Regions from separate parts of the Homo sapiens genome. Here region 2 is linked to region 1. Evidence: fine-mapped expression QTL. A gene starts in region 1. The other region holds a variant in brackets. All regions are shown on one strand. Distances are between the middles of the regions.

Region 1 (8,334 bases):
ATGTGTGTGTGTGTGTGTGTGTGTGTTTGTGTGTGTGTCGTAGTTAATGGTAATTTTGACTTTTAAGTATTGAATGAATGGCTCCCTGAATGACCATTACCCACATCTCGTGTCCTGAGCACATTGTGTTTACAACATGGGCGAAAATCCTGATCTTGAAAGAAAATAATAAAAATAAAGATCTTGCCATAAATCCTACAAAATAGGACAAATATTTTTAAAGTAGGTTTTTGAAGGAGCTTTAGAGCTGGTGGTCATCACTAAACCTTCCCACTATGCTGGATTTCTTTAGGTTACTTAGTAGGTATGTACTTAGAAAAAATGTTAAAGTATTAGAAAATGAACCTAAGTAGGGCTGCTAAAATCATCCTGTTGCTCTCTTAGCGAGTGAATAACCTGAAAGTCAAGGTCGGTGGCTCTTAGCCTTTCGGGGTTCCTTGGAAAAGGGCCTCATGAAAGCCACAGTACATACTTATGAGGTCCCAGAAAGAAATTCTAATTACACCAGGGGCTTATCCCATATGCCAAAAATATTTGTTGAGTTAAAAAGAACTAATTAATTAATAGAGCAAGGATTCTTAACCTGGGTCCAAGTATCTCATGAACATCCTGGATGGTCAGCAAAAATTGGGTATATATTTACATTTCTGGGGAATCTACGTAGAATTCTCAAAAGTTCTATGGTCCAAAATGATTAAGAACCATTTTGCCTTTTGGGATCCCTGGCCATCTTGGTGGCTGCTTTTGGTTAGAGGCCATCCCACATCCAAGGCCAGAATATGGTGGCCGCAAAGAAGACGAAAAGTCACTGGAGTCCATCCACTCTAGGCTCCAACCCATTAAGGGTCAAAAATACAAGCTGGGGCAATCCGGCTCTGAAGATGATAGACAAGGCAAAGTGAAACCGGTCATCCCCACCAACTGCCTGGCCTCGAGGAAATCTGAAATACAGAACTAAGGTGCATACTCTCAAAACTGCCATCTACCACTCCAGCAGTAATAACATTAAATTGGGCACAGCATGTGGAAAATACCATAGCAAGTGCACCCTGGTGTCACTGATCCAGGGAATGCTGAGATTTTTTTTTTTTTTTTTTTTTTTTGAGACAGGGTCTCACTGTGTTGCCTAGGCTGGAGTGCAGTGGCACCATCTCGGCTCACTGCAAGCTCCACCTCCAAGATTCAAGCCATCCACCTCCCACCTCGGCCTCCTGAGCAGCTGGGACCACAGGTGCATGTCACTATGCCCAGCTAATTTTTGTAGACAGGAGGTCTCACTATGTTGCCCAAGCTGGCCTCGAAGTCCTGGACTCAAGCAATCCGCCCACCTCAGCCTCCCAAAGTGCTGGGATTACAGGCATGAGGCACTGCACCCAGCCCTGAGATCTTTGGAAGCATGCCAGAACAGACTGGTGAAAATAAATCATGCAAATCTTTAATAAAACTGGCCAGAGCTTATTTTTCAAAAAGAAGGAAGGAAGGAAGGGAGGGAGGGAGGGAGAGAGGGAAGGAAGTGGGGAGGGAGGGAGGGGAGGGAGGGAGGTTTTATGCTATCTCTAAAGCCAAAAACAACTGGCAAATTTGGCAGCTCAGAGGAACGAAGCTTTAGATATCTGAGTTCTGGCTTCGGCATACCTCCCACCTCCTGATTCCCGAGGGCAGAACCTCTCACTGCTGCCCACAGTCCAGTCCTCCCCCTCTGCCTGGAAGGCTGTCTCCATTTAGACCACATTCCCTCCTGGCCATCCTTCAGGACTGCACACTCAGTTATAAAAGCCTCCTTCCCTGCCTGAGGACAATAGATAGCTCCTTCCATCACCCAAATTATTTTCAGAGGCTCCTTGCTATTTCCCAGGTACAAAAGAAGCCCTCACAGTATTGCTTATACAATGATAGCCTATTATTTGTTGTTTTGTATTTGCACCCTGGTCTGTGTTACCTGGTCACTGTGGCCCAGTTGTTTATTCTAGATTCAAAGCTGTCAGGGGAATCACTGTTGTTTAATTTTCTTTTGTGTAGGAGGTGTTCAAAGCAAAAGTTAGATGACAGACTTCAAAATCATTTCAGATTCTGCAGCACTGTTTGCTACAATTAGGAGAACTGGTTCTGTCAAAACCCTAACTTACGGCTTCGTTCATTCTGGACATTTTTATTTTTCATACCCTGCTCTCAAATACAATGGGTATCTTCTTTTTAAATCTGCACACATCTGACTCAGTTCCTCCCACAGTCCTCCGCTTATGGTTTGGAATTGGAATTTTCATTTCACTAAGAAAGGGAGAAATTCTTGCTGGGGAATGGTTCTTCAGGCATTCAGAGCCCTCACTATCTTTGGAAAAGCAAGGTTTTTTCTCCAAGAGTTTTGAAGACTGCACGTTCAATATCTCATTTTGTTTGCTTCCCTCTCTTGGCTCCCTCCTACCCACAGGGTGCCACAGCACGCTGTCTTTCCCAGTAGCAAAGGCGCTGTGTCTCAAAAGCTGGCTATCTTATTCATTTCTGAGTCAAACTCTAGACCATGCTTGCCTCTTCAGGCACTTGGCTCTCTCAGCACAAATATAACAGGTCTTTGCACTCCAGGCCCTTGCCAAGAGTGAACTCTGGAGGCCTGAGGCCATGTGGAATCAGGCCTGAAGTGCCCTCCTTTACCCTGTGGCACCAAAGCCTGCTTCAGATGGCTGGGCCACATCCTGCCGGTCTGCCAAGAAGAGCTTGGGGGCACTCTGGCCACAACAGTCAAGCATCCTGGGGGCCTCCTTCCCATTAAGGCCCTCAGGTTTCGCACTTATTTCCCCAGAACTTATCTGTGCCTTCCACAGCCCACATGGCCCCGGGCTGGACTTCCAGGGGCTTTGTTCCCTTCTCAGCTGCGGTTTATTTGTTTACTTTTGAAACACGAAGTGAGGCCAGAGATGGGAAACTTTGAGCTTTTGCATGCTTCTCCACTCGGTCTCCTCACTGGAGAGGGCTGGCAGTGCTCAGAATGGTGCATGCCCCCTGCTCCTCACCGCCACCCATGCTCCAAAGCCAGGATGTGAGTCTTGCAGAGCTGCAGACAGCCCCTAAAGGGTGTGCTCCCAATTTGAGCTCATCTGACCCAGTTAAGGAGCCAGAATGGGAGAAGCATCTGCCACTCATGAGCTCTGGCTGGGGGGCCCCTGCCCTCCCCCTCGCCCCCAGTCCTGATGCCCTTCTGGGCGGCTTCAAGCAGCAGCTGCAAAATGTCAGTGCAAGAGGCAGAAGAACCAGGGCGAGCGTGCAGGCTCCGGGTGATAGAAGCAGAAGGAAAGTCTAGAAGCGCACGGAGCAAGGGGCCACGCGGTGTCGCAGGCAGCGAGGACAGCCCAGGCTCCCAGAGACCGCAGCCGGGTGGAGGCGTCTGCGGGTACCAGGCGACGGGCCAGGGCGCACGGCGAGGCCACCCACCTCTTGATGTAGCTGCTGAGGCGGTAGAGCTGCCCGTCGAGGCGCACGAGGCCGTCACCGAAGACGTTGAAGCCCCCCCGCGCCGCCGCCGGCTCCCCGGGCCTGGCCACCACGAGCTGGTCGCCGCTCAGCTGGAAGGCACCGGGCTGCAGGCGCAGCAGCTGAGCCAGCGGCAGCAGGGCCAGCTCGCAGTCGCAGGTCCACAGGCTGCGAAGCTCCCCAGACGAGATGGAGGTCAGGCTCGGCCTGGCCACCGGCTCGCAGGCCGCCCCCGCCATGCCCGCGTCGTCGGTCCTCACACCGCCTGCTTCCGTCCGGTGCCTACAGCCCCCAGCCGGCACCTGATGGTCCCCAGGAGGGGCCGGGCGCCCTGCCTGCGTCAGCCGCGCGCGAGGTGAGGAGGGGGTCGGTCTGCCCGCCTGGCCGGGACGCGGTGGCCGCTCAGGTGCCAGTCTGACCGCCCGGGCGGCCCCTCCCAAGCTGCCACTCGCTGGGAGCCCTGCAGGCACCGCGCGGAGAAAGCGGCCCCGGCGCAGCGCGGCCCCTTTTATCCGCCCTCTGGACGCCCGCCTCGCCCCTGCCGGCCCACGGCCACGACCCCAGAGGCTCGGGGCAGAGTTATCATCGTCTCATAACTTGGCATGCTCGAGTCTGCTCGCAGGCAAGGCTTAGTCATCCCCCTGGGGTCCACTACTCAACACCAGCGCTGGCCCCCGCCCTGCCTGGCGGACACTGCCGGAGGCTGGAGGTGGGGAGAGTCCTCCCCGGGTTCCCAGGCCCTGCCTATGGTGGGCGGCAGGGCGCACAGCACCCATCCTTGCCTAAGACACCACACCCCTGGTGTTGATTGGAGAAGAAGGCAAGGGCTCTGGCCCTACCCATTCCACCTGGGACCCAGAGGCTGTCAAAGGCCAGTGCTGGAACTCCGATCCCCACCTCAGTACCAGACCTCTCACTCAGCCTCAGTTTTCTGCCATTTTAACTCCATCCAGATCGTACCCTGCATTTCCCTCCTTTCAGCCTTTCCTTCAGCTGGTTGCTGGCCCTGGATCCCTTCCCCCTAGAAATCCCACTGATCATCACATCGCTTTTCCATAAAGCCTTCACGAATCCCACGAGGGTTTCATCGCTTTGCTTCTCCTTTCTACTGCACGGTGAACCCTAGACTGCAATGTGCCGTGTAGTGGGGATAGCAGGGTCCTAGCATCCTCCCTTCTCCCCTGCCTCCCCAGTAGGTGGTGATCTCCTTGAGCCCCAGAATATGTTCATTTCTTCAGTCTATAAATATGTGAGTGCTAGCTATGGGCTCATTGATCTCCTGAGGTATGAAAGGAGAACTATATTATTCCATTTAATTAAACACCTATTTCTGCTGCGGAGAAGCCTGGATGGGATGGGAGGAGAATCTAGCCTAGTTTCGAGGCTTTCTGTAGTACTGTGTTTTAGGATTCTAAGCTACATCCCAAAAGTTGAGTAGAACGTAGAGAATATCCTTAGTTAGTCTTTGTGTGCCCCCACATGAACTCTTGTGTAGGTTTAATCAGATGGGATGAAGAGTCCTCCCGCCACATCTCATTTAAATCTCAGAATATAAATGAGCCCCACTCTCTTCTCTTCTTCTAGGTGCACACCTATCCTTTCTCCAGACATGGATCTTTTACCCATGGGATCATTACCCCATCTCTGGGCCTCTCTGAACAAATCTAATTCACTGAGCATGAATTGATCACTACCCACTCAACCTTTTGTGGCGCAGGAAGGATGCTCTACCTGTGAAAAAAGCATCCAGAAGATCTTCTTGCAAAGGGAGGTTTGAGGATCCCTGCAAAGAGAATGGGTCTGGGGTGGGCTGAGACTGTAGACAGGACTCAGAGGCTGGGGCTGTTTTCACAGGGGAGGGATTTGGTGCCAGCAGTTAAATCCATTGTGCCCTATTTAGAACTTCACTCTTGTCCCAAACATTGACAGAGTCATCACTATGCACCAGGGACCATCTTAAGCTCTGAGGTCACACACACACACACACAAGGATCCAATAAGTGCTACCATAGATGTATGGACTAAGCACTATGAGAAATAAGTGGTTCTGCCCCAAGAAGGGTGCTCAAAGGAGGTGACACATGGCTAGACTTCCAATACACAGGGGAGGCTCCCAGGGGAAGGAGCAGCAGCAATAAGGAGATGGGAGAGAAGATTCTGTACCATTCTATGCAAAGAGAGATGCTATGGTTCCATCTGGGGGAGGGGGGAAATTTTTAAACAGCTAGGGCAGACCATCCTATTTGGGATAAGAGGGGTCAGTTTTATATGAGATGAGACCAGAAAGGGCTGTTGGAGCCAGATTGTGACAGACCCTCTGAGTTGTCAGGAATTTGGATTCTTAAGACAATGAGGAGCCTTGGGATGTTTTAAAGAAAGGAAGTGATATAATTATGCCTCAGTTCAGATAGACACCTTTGGTTATGACCAAAGAAGATGTTTTGAAACAGGAAGATCAGAGGCAGAGAAACCAGTTAGGAGATTGATGTAATAATCCAGATAACATATGATGGGGGTCTGAACAGAAGCAGCTGTGGGAATGGAGATGAGGTTTCAACATTTTTGAGTCAGAGTCAGCAGGAAGGATCTTATGAGTAAATAAATGAAAAAGAGCAGAGAGACCCACTTAGTCTCTTGCTTGGGTACCCAGAGAGATGGTGACACCATTAACGAAGCTAGGGTTCACAGGAGGAAGAGTAGGAGTTTGAGGAGAGATAGTGATGAGTTCAGGGGGGACATACTGATTTTGAGCTACTTATGGAACATCAAGGTAGAAAAGTCCAGGAGGCAAGGAGTTAGTTGGGTCTGGCGTTTTGGAAAGACAAGGTCAATGATTGAGATTTGAAAGTCTCTAGATCAAAGACGGGGTTGAAGCCAAAGAAGTGGATGGGGGCATCTAGCTAATACATGATAGGGTAGGAATTTGAACCCAGGCCTTTAGTTTACTTCAACATATGTTAATTGAGCATCTGCTATGTTCAGTGCTTTGCTGGAGATACAGAGTTGAATAGAGGATGGCCCCTGTCCTCAAATAACAGGGAGAAATGCAGGAATCAGCATGAACTAGTCTTCTGGCACCATGTCCAAACATGTGGCTGAAATCTAGTTATATTTTGCCTGTGTCTCCAACCTGCTGGTGGAATACAACCTCAACAACAATAACAGCTGCAGAAGTTGCTTTCAATTAGTAAGTCAAGGAGGGCAGGTCCACTACAGAGCCCTCACCAGCCCCTACTCTCCCCATTCCACATAGATCGAACTCAACAACTCACCCTATGAGCTTCACATAGATCAAGCTCAACAACTCTTGATTGCCCTTAAACCTACACCACACTGTCTATGAATGATTTGGCTTTCTTGAAGGGTAAAATGTTACATCGGGGTTTTATATCAGAATTATATGCATTTGTTTAAGATAAACATACCAGTCCCTCCTATCAAAAAACCGTTTCCTGGGCAGGCACGGTGGCTCACACCTATAATTCCAGTATTCTGGGAGGCCAAGGCATGTGGATCGCCTGAGGTCAGGAGTTCCAGACCAGCCTGGCCAACATGGTGAAATCCCATCTCTACTAAAAATACAAAAATTAGCTGGGTATGGTGTTGAATGCCTGTAATCCTAGCTACTTGGGAGGCTGAGGCAGGAGAATCGCTTGAACCTGGGAGGCAGAGGTTGCAATGAGCCAAGATCGTGCCATTGCACTCCAGCCTGGGTGACAAGAGTCAAACTCCATCTCAAAAAAAAAAATCCGTTTCCTTCATAGTAAGATATCAACACTTAGATCTGAGTAGAAGAATTAAACGAAATTTTTCTTTACCTCACCACAGTTGTGTGATTTTACACTTTTCCTGTATTTTCCAAATAAATGTGTATTGTTTTATACAGAAAAATGATGTTGAGCATAATAAAAATATTTTAAAGATGCTTTCTTGGTATGTTGTCTAGAGGTTTCATTTGATGCGTTTTCAGCAAAACACCTGCATTTCTTTATGGGTAATTTATGCATTACCAAAATGCCAGAGAAAGATATGAAAAAGTGAACAGAAAAAAAATAGTATTCAATGTAATGTAAGCCATTGCTAATAAGTAGAGAGCTAGAGAGATCTTTTCATGTTTAATGTCTTTTTCATTACCCAAGTACCAGCCAGGCAAACAATCACTCCTGGTGACGACCTTTTCAGTCTTTTTTTGGTTTGCTTACATAGTTGTGTTCCTATCGTAGAATTTTTATTCGGCTTTGTGCATTTAACATTATATGTATATTATGTTGTGAAAATTTCATTTTCTTTGTGAATAGTATTTTAAATCACTATGCTATTTTCCATCAAGTGTATATTCTATTGTTTGTCTAGACATTTCTTTACTCTTGAACACTCAGATTGTTTCTTGTTTTTCCTTATAAACAATGCTGCAATAAACATCTTCATACTTTGATTTCGTTTTTCTGTATCCAAGCTCTCAGAGATGGAATTACTGGGACAAATGATATGAGAATGTGCATTGCTCTGGAAACGTGTGTCATTATTCTCCTAAAGGCTGGCACCAATTTGTCTTCTCACCAGCAGTGATTTTTCATGGTTTTAAATCTTTGCAGTTGGGGTAGGGTACCTCACAGCTATTTACGCTACAAGTGAGATTAACAGTTTAGCTATAATGTTACCACTCAAATTTAGAGACTTTATAGCAAGGCAATCACCCATTGGTGAGTCTGTGGCTATGCTCACAGGTAAAAGACAAGATAAAGATTTTGCCATCCTTATGTGTCCCCATTAAGGTAACTGTGCTATGGGGACATCAGCAGCTCACAGGCTCAGTTTCTCAGCTTTGGGGGTCCAAAGTTCATATTCAGAAATTTGATTCAACCTTAC
Region 2 (8,334 bases), 25 kb after region 1:
TTCTTTTCTAACAAAGGGTGGCCAGTAAAATCAAGCTGCAGACATAGAAAGGCAGGCTAGAAGTTTGCACAGGTGAATGCTGGCAGTTGTGCCAATAGGAAAGGGGTTACCTGGGAAATAGGCATGTTCAAAATGGCAGTTTCATCTTCCCTTTTCCTTGCCAACCACATGTGCAGCAGGGGGCAGACAACATGGAGCTCGTCAGGCAAATAGCCCATTTGCATAAGATTAGGGTGGGGAAGCCAGCTTCCCTCAAGCTATGTAAACATCACACTAGGTCCAACCAATCTTTGGGCCCTATGTAAATCAGACACCGCCTCCTCAAGCCTTTCTATAAAACCCTGTGCACTCCACGACCAGCCGGAACTCCCACTCAGGTGCCCTTCTCTCTCTCGCAGAAGAGAGAGCTGTTTTCTTTTCTCTTTCTTTTGCCTATTAAACCTCTGCTCCTAAACCCACTTCCTGTGTGTCTGCATACTCGATATCCTTGGCATGAGATGGCGAACCTCAGGTGTTTACCCCAGAGAATGATGTTTCTTTGGAATTGCTGAAACATATGGTAATTCTATGTTTAATTTGTTGAGGCACCACCATATTGTTTTCCATAGTGGCTGCACCATTTTACATTCCTGCCCATTCCCAATGCATCCGGCTTCCAGTTTCTCAATATCCAACACTTGTTATTTTCTATTTTTTTTTTTCATTAGTAGCCTTCCTAATGAGTGTGAAGTGGTATCTCATTGTGATTTTGATTTGCATTTTCCTAATGATTGATTAGTGATGCTGAGCATCTTTTCATATGCTTATTGACCATTTGTATACATATTATCTTTGGACAAATGTCTATTCAAGTCCTTTGCCCATTTTTTATTTGGACTGACTTTGTTGTTGTTGAGTTGCAGGAGTTCTTATTTTTAAATATTTAATTTTTTTTTTTTAGAGACGGGGTCTCACTGTATCAGCTCAGCTGGAGTACAGTGGTGAGATCAGAGCTCACCGCAGCCTCCGGGCTCCTGGTCTCAAGCAATCCGGACCTCAGCCTCCCAAGTAGTGGGGACTACAGGTGTGCACTACCACATCCAGCTAATTATTTTTTTTCTTTTTGTAGAGATGGAGTCCTACTTTGTTTCCCAGGCTGGTCTTGAACTCCTTGCTTCAAGCAATCCTCCCATCTCTGCCTCCCAAAGTGTTGGAATTACAAGCATGAGCCACTGTGCTTGGCCAGGAGTTCTTTATATATTCTGGATATCAATCCCTTATCAGATATATGATTTGCAAATATTTTCTTTGATTCTCCTTGGGTTGCCCCTTCACTCTGTTGATTGTGTCCTTTGATACATTTGAAACCCTCCTGAGCCCTTCCCTCTGGTATCCTGCCCCTGCTCTCAGGCTGCTCTATCCTTTGCATGGGGTTCTTGGGTATCGGGGTACTCCTCCACCTTGTATCCTGCTGCCTCCCTGGGTGGGCTGCACCCACTGAGGGGTGAGGGAGTGGCAGGTGCTTCATTCCTCTGTGATTTCTGCCCCAGTCCTCTTCTAACAAACGCAAATCCTATTATGAGAATTTGCTAACACGTTTTAAAAATACGCAAATGTATTGGGAGCTTATTTCAGAGACAATTTTTATTTTAAAGAAAAAGTAACTTATATATTTTTAAAATCTAGAGAATGTACAACTCCTCTGCCACAACGTGAGGGAGAGAAGTCTGCAGACGGCTGACTGGTGACGACTGAACAAGACGGAAAGGCAAGTCGCTATGCCCGAAGCCTTTGAAGGGAGCCAGCAGGGTCCATGGGAGGTTCAGGACACATATCTGCAGCCCTGCTTCTGGCCCCACCCTTGGGGAAGCCTTTTGCAGGTGATCCTGGGCCTCTGCTGGGGAAGGCCCCAAGAGGTGAAGCATCCTCTGCAGAGGAGAGAGCACATCCGGAAGTAGAAGACAGACCACTGTCTGGGCTCCGTTTAACTGCTGTGATTTGGGATTGTAACTTACTCCCGTAAAGCCTCAGTTTCCCACATGGAAAATCAAATCGATCATTGTTATAACATTTCACTTTTTTGTTATGTGATGTAATTTACACAGTGCTTTCGTATACGTTATCCAATTTAGCGAAATAATACAGAGCAATGCATTTTGAAAAGAATAAAATGCTTAACATATGTGAGGAATTCTTTTTTCCTTTGAAAACTACTCCGGATGGCTTGGCTATTGTTTAGTTAAGAGAATTATACAATTTTTGAGACATGGTTCCTTATCTTGTGTAGGCTGAAAGGCAATTAAACAATTATTCATGTCAGAATCTGAGGTAAATAAAAGGCTGCTTCAAAGAGTCCACTTACGGAGTGAAAAGCAGTTGAGTAGAAACAGAGAGTGGTCTGTAATTTCCTTCTGGAAGGAATATCCACTCCATATGGCCTGAAGCAAGAATTTCAAACTCCTCTGTGGGGAGAAAGAGACAGAAATAAAAACTTTTAAGTTTTTTTACTCCGATTTGTCCCAGCCATTTTCTGAACAGCCTATGGAAGCCATCCGCTCCTCTAAACAAAAATAAGCTAAGAGACAGAAAGAATGATTTGATTTCCGTGTGTAGGGATGGTTCAGTCATAAATCAGTGTATTTTTTCCAAGAGGAAGGTGCCAGCAACAAAAGTTGGTCATAAAAAGGACATTAAACTTTAGTAGTCTCTTCACTGTTCCCTCCCACATCCAGTTGCCAACAGCAGAGACAACTGTGAGACACAGTGAAATGAAGTGACTGCTCCACTGCTGGGCAACAGGAGACCCGGATGCCAGGCTCCCTGGCAGAAGAAATAGAAAGTCAATAGCAAACACAGATGTCTTCCTCCCTACCACATCACCTCCACTTTTCACCATCGCCTGTGTGATACAACCACCCCGCAATGCCTTCCTCAGCCTTTTACTTCTGTTTCCAGTGAGTCAAGAAAAACTTCTCCAGCTTGCCCTGTGGAGATGAATGAGCCCATAATCCACTTACACGTGTGACCTTTACACAGCCAGGACCCCCATAGAGCAGCCAAACATGCAGTCTTGTAAACAAAAGGAATTTCAAGATAACTCTGATCTTTCACTAATTATCCCAAAGCCCAAAGGGGATCCATATACATAGTCCGAAGCCTACTTTAAGGAGGCATCCTCCCCTGTGTATTCCCAGCCCATCCCATAGTTTCCCACTCTGCAGCTCCAAACTCAACTTGTCCCATCACCAGCCCCCAGCCTCTCTTCTTTCCCTCTCCCCATGCCCCACTACCTCTATTTTTTATTATTGCAGATTGACCAAATGTCTATGAAGCTGCAGCAAGGTTTCTTCTTTTTTGGAGCAGGGAATGGGGAGTGATTGGGCTTGGCTGTGACAGATTGTTTTGGCAGGCTCAGTGGGCAGAGGCGGTGAACACCATCCCAGTAAGTAAAGGGACTGTAGGAGCGTAGAGTTCCCTTAGTTCCTGGCTGGAAACCCAGCTCCCTGCCTCCTCCCATCCATCAAGCTGGGAGCCATGACAGTGTCAGAGCCTGAGCTCCAGCCCAGACTTCTGGGTGAAGTGGTCCCATGGAGCAAAGCTTGGTTTGGAAGATTTGGAGAATGGGAAAGAATGTTCTCTTACCACAACCTCTTCCCCACTGCGGCCCCTTCCTAAGCTGCCATTGAAATCTATTTTTGCCAGAGCAAAAAATGGGGGAAGTGGACAGCTTCTGCCAACAGTGAGTTTGTTCCAAGCCCACCCCACAGTCATGGGTTCCTCAGAGTGTCACTGAATCACAGGACTCATGGAAATCTGCCCATGTCATGAAGATAAACCACTGTGATCACTTTTAAAATCTTTCTCATCATGTCCTTGGGAAGATAAAGGGGTGGAACTGAACAGAAAGGGGCAGAGGTGGGACTTTTTTTCACTAACCTTAACCTTCATGCCAAGAACAGAGATCTCTGTTTGAAAGCATGTCTCCGATGACCATTTATTTGCTCTGCCTGGTAAACCTTCGTGTAATGCGTGGCTTTAAGCATTAGTCATTCCCTGCTGGGAAGGAGGTTAGAACTCCAGAAACAAGGCTATTGCAGAACTGGACTGTGTGGGTCACTAAACCACAGGGGAAAGGGTGGAGAAGCAGCTGGTGTCCCGCTTAAAGGTCACAAAGCATTATTTCTACTTTAATACCCAGAGTTCAAGTGGAAATAAACTCAGAAGGTTAAGATCTAAGTGAAAATTAACTGAAGGCAACTGTGCCATTTGGACTCTGAGATGTGCTTGCCTGGGAAAGTGCAAAACACACTGGCTATCTTTCCATGAGCACAGCTGAACAGGAATAGGCATTAATAAGGATAAACATAAAGAAAAAATTGCTAATTATTGGCAGAGAATGCCAAGAAAAGTTGGTGGAATTCTCTTCTTTGGGGACCCTGGGAAAAGAACAGTAACAGTTAGGTACAGAGGCGCCTGGAAGCAAAGAAACTTCTTTCCCTGGGACAGTGGCTCTGTGCTGTGTGTAACCCTGAGTTCTTTAGGTCACTATAGTCTGGGTGAGTGACTCCAGGGTTGTAGGATGCAATAGCCATGCTAATGAAAACTCACTGGTTCTGAGCCCCCTTCCAGAAGTACTG[T/C]GGGTACTTTCAGCCTCTTTTCTCCCTGCAGAGTCTCAAAGAGCTCATGTTCTGTCCTTGGTGATTAATACAGATTTCTTGGCTCTTCCCAGCCTGCTAGTCAGTGAACTTAATTTGCCACTTCTGTTGCTAATCATAACTCTTGCCTCAGCATCAAGCTGATCATCCTTGCAGCTGTAGATATTGGCCCTCCTGCACTGGATGCTCGCAGAGAGGGGAAGGCAGTCTCCTAATCACCATTTCTAATAAAAAAACGAGAGGCTTGCATTCTCACTCTCTTGCTGAGCTTCTCCTGATGGAGCTAGCCATGAGGTTCCTGATGGCTGGAGGAAATATGAGGATATCTTCCCCAGAACACCCACCACACCTCTCTCAACAATCAACTCATGTTCCAGGACAGATGCTGTGAACAACAGCAAATGTAGAGCAGGTACTAGAAACTATGATCAGTGCTTTACATAGATGATCTCATTACATCTTTACTGTAAGCCCATGAGGTAGGTACTCTTATGGTCCCTATTCTACAGATGTGCAGAGAACCAGCACCTCAACTCTCTGATTTCAAGTTGAGAGGTTGGGGTTGGCCTGGTTGGCTCTTCAAGTCAAGAGGACATTTTATTCTGTCCCATCAAGTGACCTTTGGGTCACCAAGGCATTAGTTCTCAGTGGATATTGCTGGTGTGCCTGACGGAGGTGGCCATTAGGCCTCCCTCCATTACACATGCCGATAGCTCTTGGTTTTCTTTTATTTGCAATACAATTCAAAAATGTGAATAAAACCTCAAAAAATAGGGAAATGAAGTCTGAACAATAAAAATAGCTGAGATATTGAGTATTTAGTCTTGCCAGGCACTGTTTGCCAAGCACTGTTCTGTGAGGACAGTGCCTGGCAACATTAAATACTCAGTATCTTAGGAGGTAGGTACTATTATCATCCCCATTTTACAGGCCGCCAAGAGGTTAAGTGACTTGCACAAGATTGCACAGCTCTTAATTGGAGAAGCTGGCATTCAAATCCAGCAGTAGCATCGGCCTGTTCCTTGCCAAATACAACAAGGCTTTCTACCTTCTTGGATGTTTATTTCCTACCACACTTTTAAAAACAATTCACCAAACACGTAAGAAGTAGCTAAAACAAGGGGCTCACATTCAATGTGTAATGTAGAGGTGCAGCTTTGTGGTTGGTTCCTTCTTTCAGTTAAGTAATGAAAAATGATACAACACATAAAAATATAACAAAACCGAAAGAGGTGAGTGCCCTAAGGAGGATACAAATACAGCCCTGTGGAAGCTAAAGTGTTGGAAGAGATCCTGCTGAGTTAGGTCCCAAAGAATCACTAGGATCTCCACGAACAGAGATGGGAAACAGACAGTAGCACTGTAAGCAGGAAAAGAACTTCGTGGTGGAAAAGTGTCCTGGGGTCCAGAAATAGTGAGATACTGATATCTGATGGATCAAGTAGGAAGTCATGGATGATTCCAGGATGAAAAAAAATTCATAGATTCATCAGAACAATTAGCAGGTGAAATTTAGCAATATTTTCAACACACCTTCAAAAACACTTGGTAGTGGCACATGGGGCAGAAGAGTCCCATATATATGGATGTCCAGGTTTACACCAGATGTCCTGGCAACCCATCGGGTTAGCAACCCTAACCATTCTCAAGATCCTTGCATGGACAATAAATTATATGACCACCCTGTATCTGGCAAATTGAAAGATAGGGCCCAACACTTAGGTGTATTAACGGTGCTTAAGAAGTCATATTGTGGCCAGGCATGGTGGCTGACACCTGTAATCCCAACACTTTGGGAGGCTGAGGCAGGAGGAGCACCTGCGCCCAGGAATTCCAGAACAGTCTGGGCAACATGGAGAAACCCCATCTCTACAAAAACAAAAAACAAAACATAATTAGCTGGGTGTGGTGGCACACAACTGTAGTCCTAGCTACTCAGGAGACTGAAGTGGGAGGATTACTTCAGCCCAACAGGTTGAGGCTAGAGTGAGCCGTGATAGTGCCACTGCACTCCAGCCCAGGCAACAGAGTGAGAACCTGTCTCAAAACCAACAAACAAAAAACCAAAACAAACCCACAAATAAGTCATATTTTAAAAGCCTACATCTCAATGCCTAGCTAAGCTTTATAAAGAATGCGGGCTCTTTGACACTTGTTTACAATTGCAACCATAGTTGGTTTTGGAAGTGTCAGTTCTTCCCACAACCCTATTTGGTGTGAGCCGTTTTGCACAAGGTAACCCAACTAGTGTCTGCCACAGAGATATGCAGGAAAAGCCAGCCTTTGATGAACAAATAGTCCCCATCTATCTGGAGTTAATGTATAGTAAAGAAAAAACCTGGTTAAACACACACTGGCATAAACTGATAAAGCTAATTTTTATCCAAGCCCACTTTTGGATTTCAAACAACTGAAGTCAAAGAAGTTAATTAAAAACACATAGAGTTGTCAATGAGTTTAAAAATAAAACACAAATTTATTCGAAATAATGAGACTTAACTAACTCTGTGGTAGACTAGTTGGCTAGTCTTTTGCAGAAGAGCCAACCTATTTGTACCTGAGATAAAACATATTCAGAAAGAAGGAAAACTGCAAAGTGGTCCCAGAACAGAGAAAGCAACAAGGAGAAGGCTTAACTGTCCTTTCAACTTTGAGGTGCAATCTGTCTACAGGGCTCCCTTGGGGGAAGCACAAGCTCTTTCTTTTAGTCTGATTTTGTTGATTGATGCTGTGTTGTTGCTGGATTGTATTACTATGTGAAGTTGAAAGGCTTAATGTTAATGTGTCTTAAACTTCAAGACTTGGAATGCATGATCCCATTTAAACTTGACCGTTCTGGGCAATGTGTTTTGATTGGCTGGATGTCTAGCTTGTGCATTTCTGTCATTTCCTAATGTGTGTGGTATGCTTTGAGCACTGCAGACAGGAAACTCACTTTTTCTCTGGCTTTCTTCTGATTTTTCTGTTTCTTGATTATTGGAAAAATGAATAAACACATAAAAATAATAATAAAGTGTCACCCCAAAAGTCTTATCTTTAAAATAATGTGGAATGGCAATGCTAAAAATAAAGCAACTTGAACTAATTTCCACTATGAATAGGGAACAAAGAATCTGCACCTTCCCTGATTTTGGATTCCAGATTCCAAATATTTCATAAATAAAATATGGCCAGCCACATGAATTATAAGGTATATACCATGTGAGTTACATACACAGGGAGAGGTTGTTTTTAAAATTTCCTGCTGGCAAAGTCAGACTTATCCTTCTTTTTTTTTTTTTTTTTTTTGAGACAGAGTCTCACTCTGTCGCCCAGGCTGGAGGGCAGTGGCACAATCTCTGCTCACTGCAAGCTCCACCTCCCGGGCTCACGCCATTCTCCTGCCTCAGCCTCCCGAGTAGCTGGGACTACAGGTGCCCACCACTATACCCGGCTAATTTTTTGTATTTTTAGTAGAGACGGGGTTTCACCGTGTTAGCCAGGATGGTCTCCATCTCCTGACCTCGTGATCCACCCGCCTCGGCCTCCCAAAGTGCTGGGATTACAGGCGTGAGCCACCGCGCCCAGCCAGACTTATTCTCATTGCCACTATTAAACCTGTCAGATAAAACCATTCCAGGATGAAGTTGGAGATACGTCATAGTACATTTTAACCCATTTATGCCTGAGGTTGCAATTTTTTGAGTGTGAAAAATCAGAC

Which allele goes with the higher level. Positions count from the first base shown, and alleles are read on the strand shown. Sizes are in standard deviations (SD) of each study's normalised expression.
For the expression in subcutaneous fat of the gene that starts at base 3,949 in region 1, allele C in region 2 goes with a higher level than allele T (moderate effect, 0.41 SD a copy in FUSION).

Evidence for each region.
Region 2: its variant is fine-mapped to the expression of MEDAG in subcutaneous fat (FUSION, PIP 0.95).

Annotation. Positions count from the first base shown.
Region 1 is chr13:30,901,886-30,910,219 of GRCh38, reverse strand. It overlaps MEDAG (mesenteric estrogen dependent adipogenesis), which reads right to left and starts at 3,949. Exons shown (of 5, transcript NM_032849.4): 1 at 3,427-3,949. The coding sequence starts at 3,704. All of the region lies in intron 2 of TEX26-AS1 (TEX26 antisense RNA 1), which reads left to right. RefSeq lists an enhancer at 2,847-3,348.
Region 2 is chr13:30,876,667-30,885,000 of GRCh38, reverse strand. It overlaps LINC00545 (long intergenic non-protein coding RNA 545), which reads right to left and starts at 2,439. Exons shown (of 2, transcript NR_103813.1): 1 at 2,342-2,439; 2 at 1,606-1,907. It overlaps TEX26-AS1 (TEX26 antisense RNA 1), which reads left to right. Exons shown (of 4, transcript NR_038287.1): 3 at 941-1,063; 4 at 1,666-2,166. The variant T/C (reference allele first, on the strand shown) is at 4,617.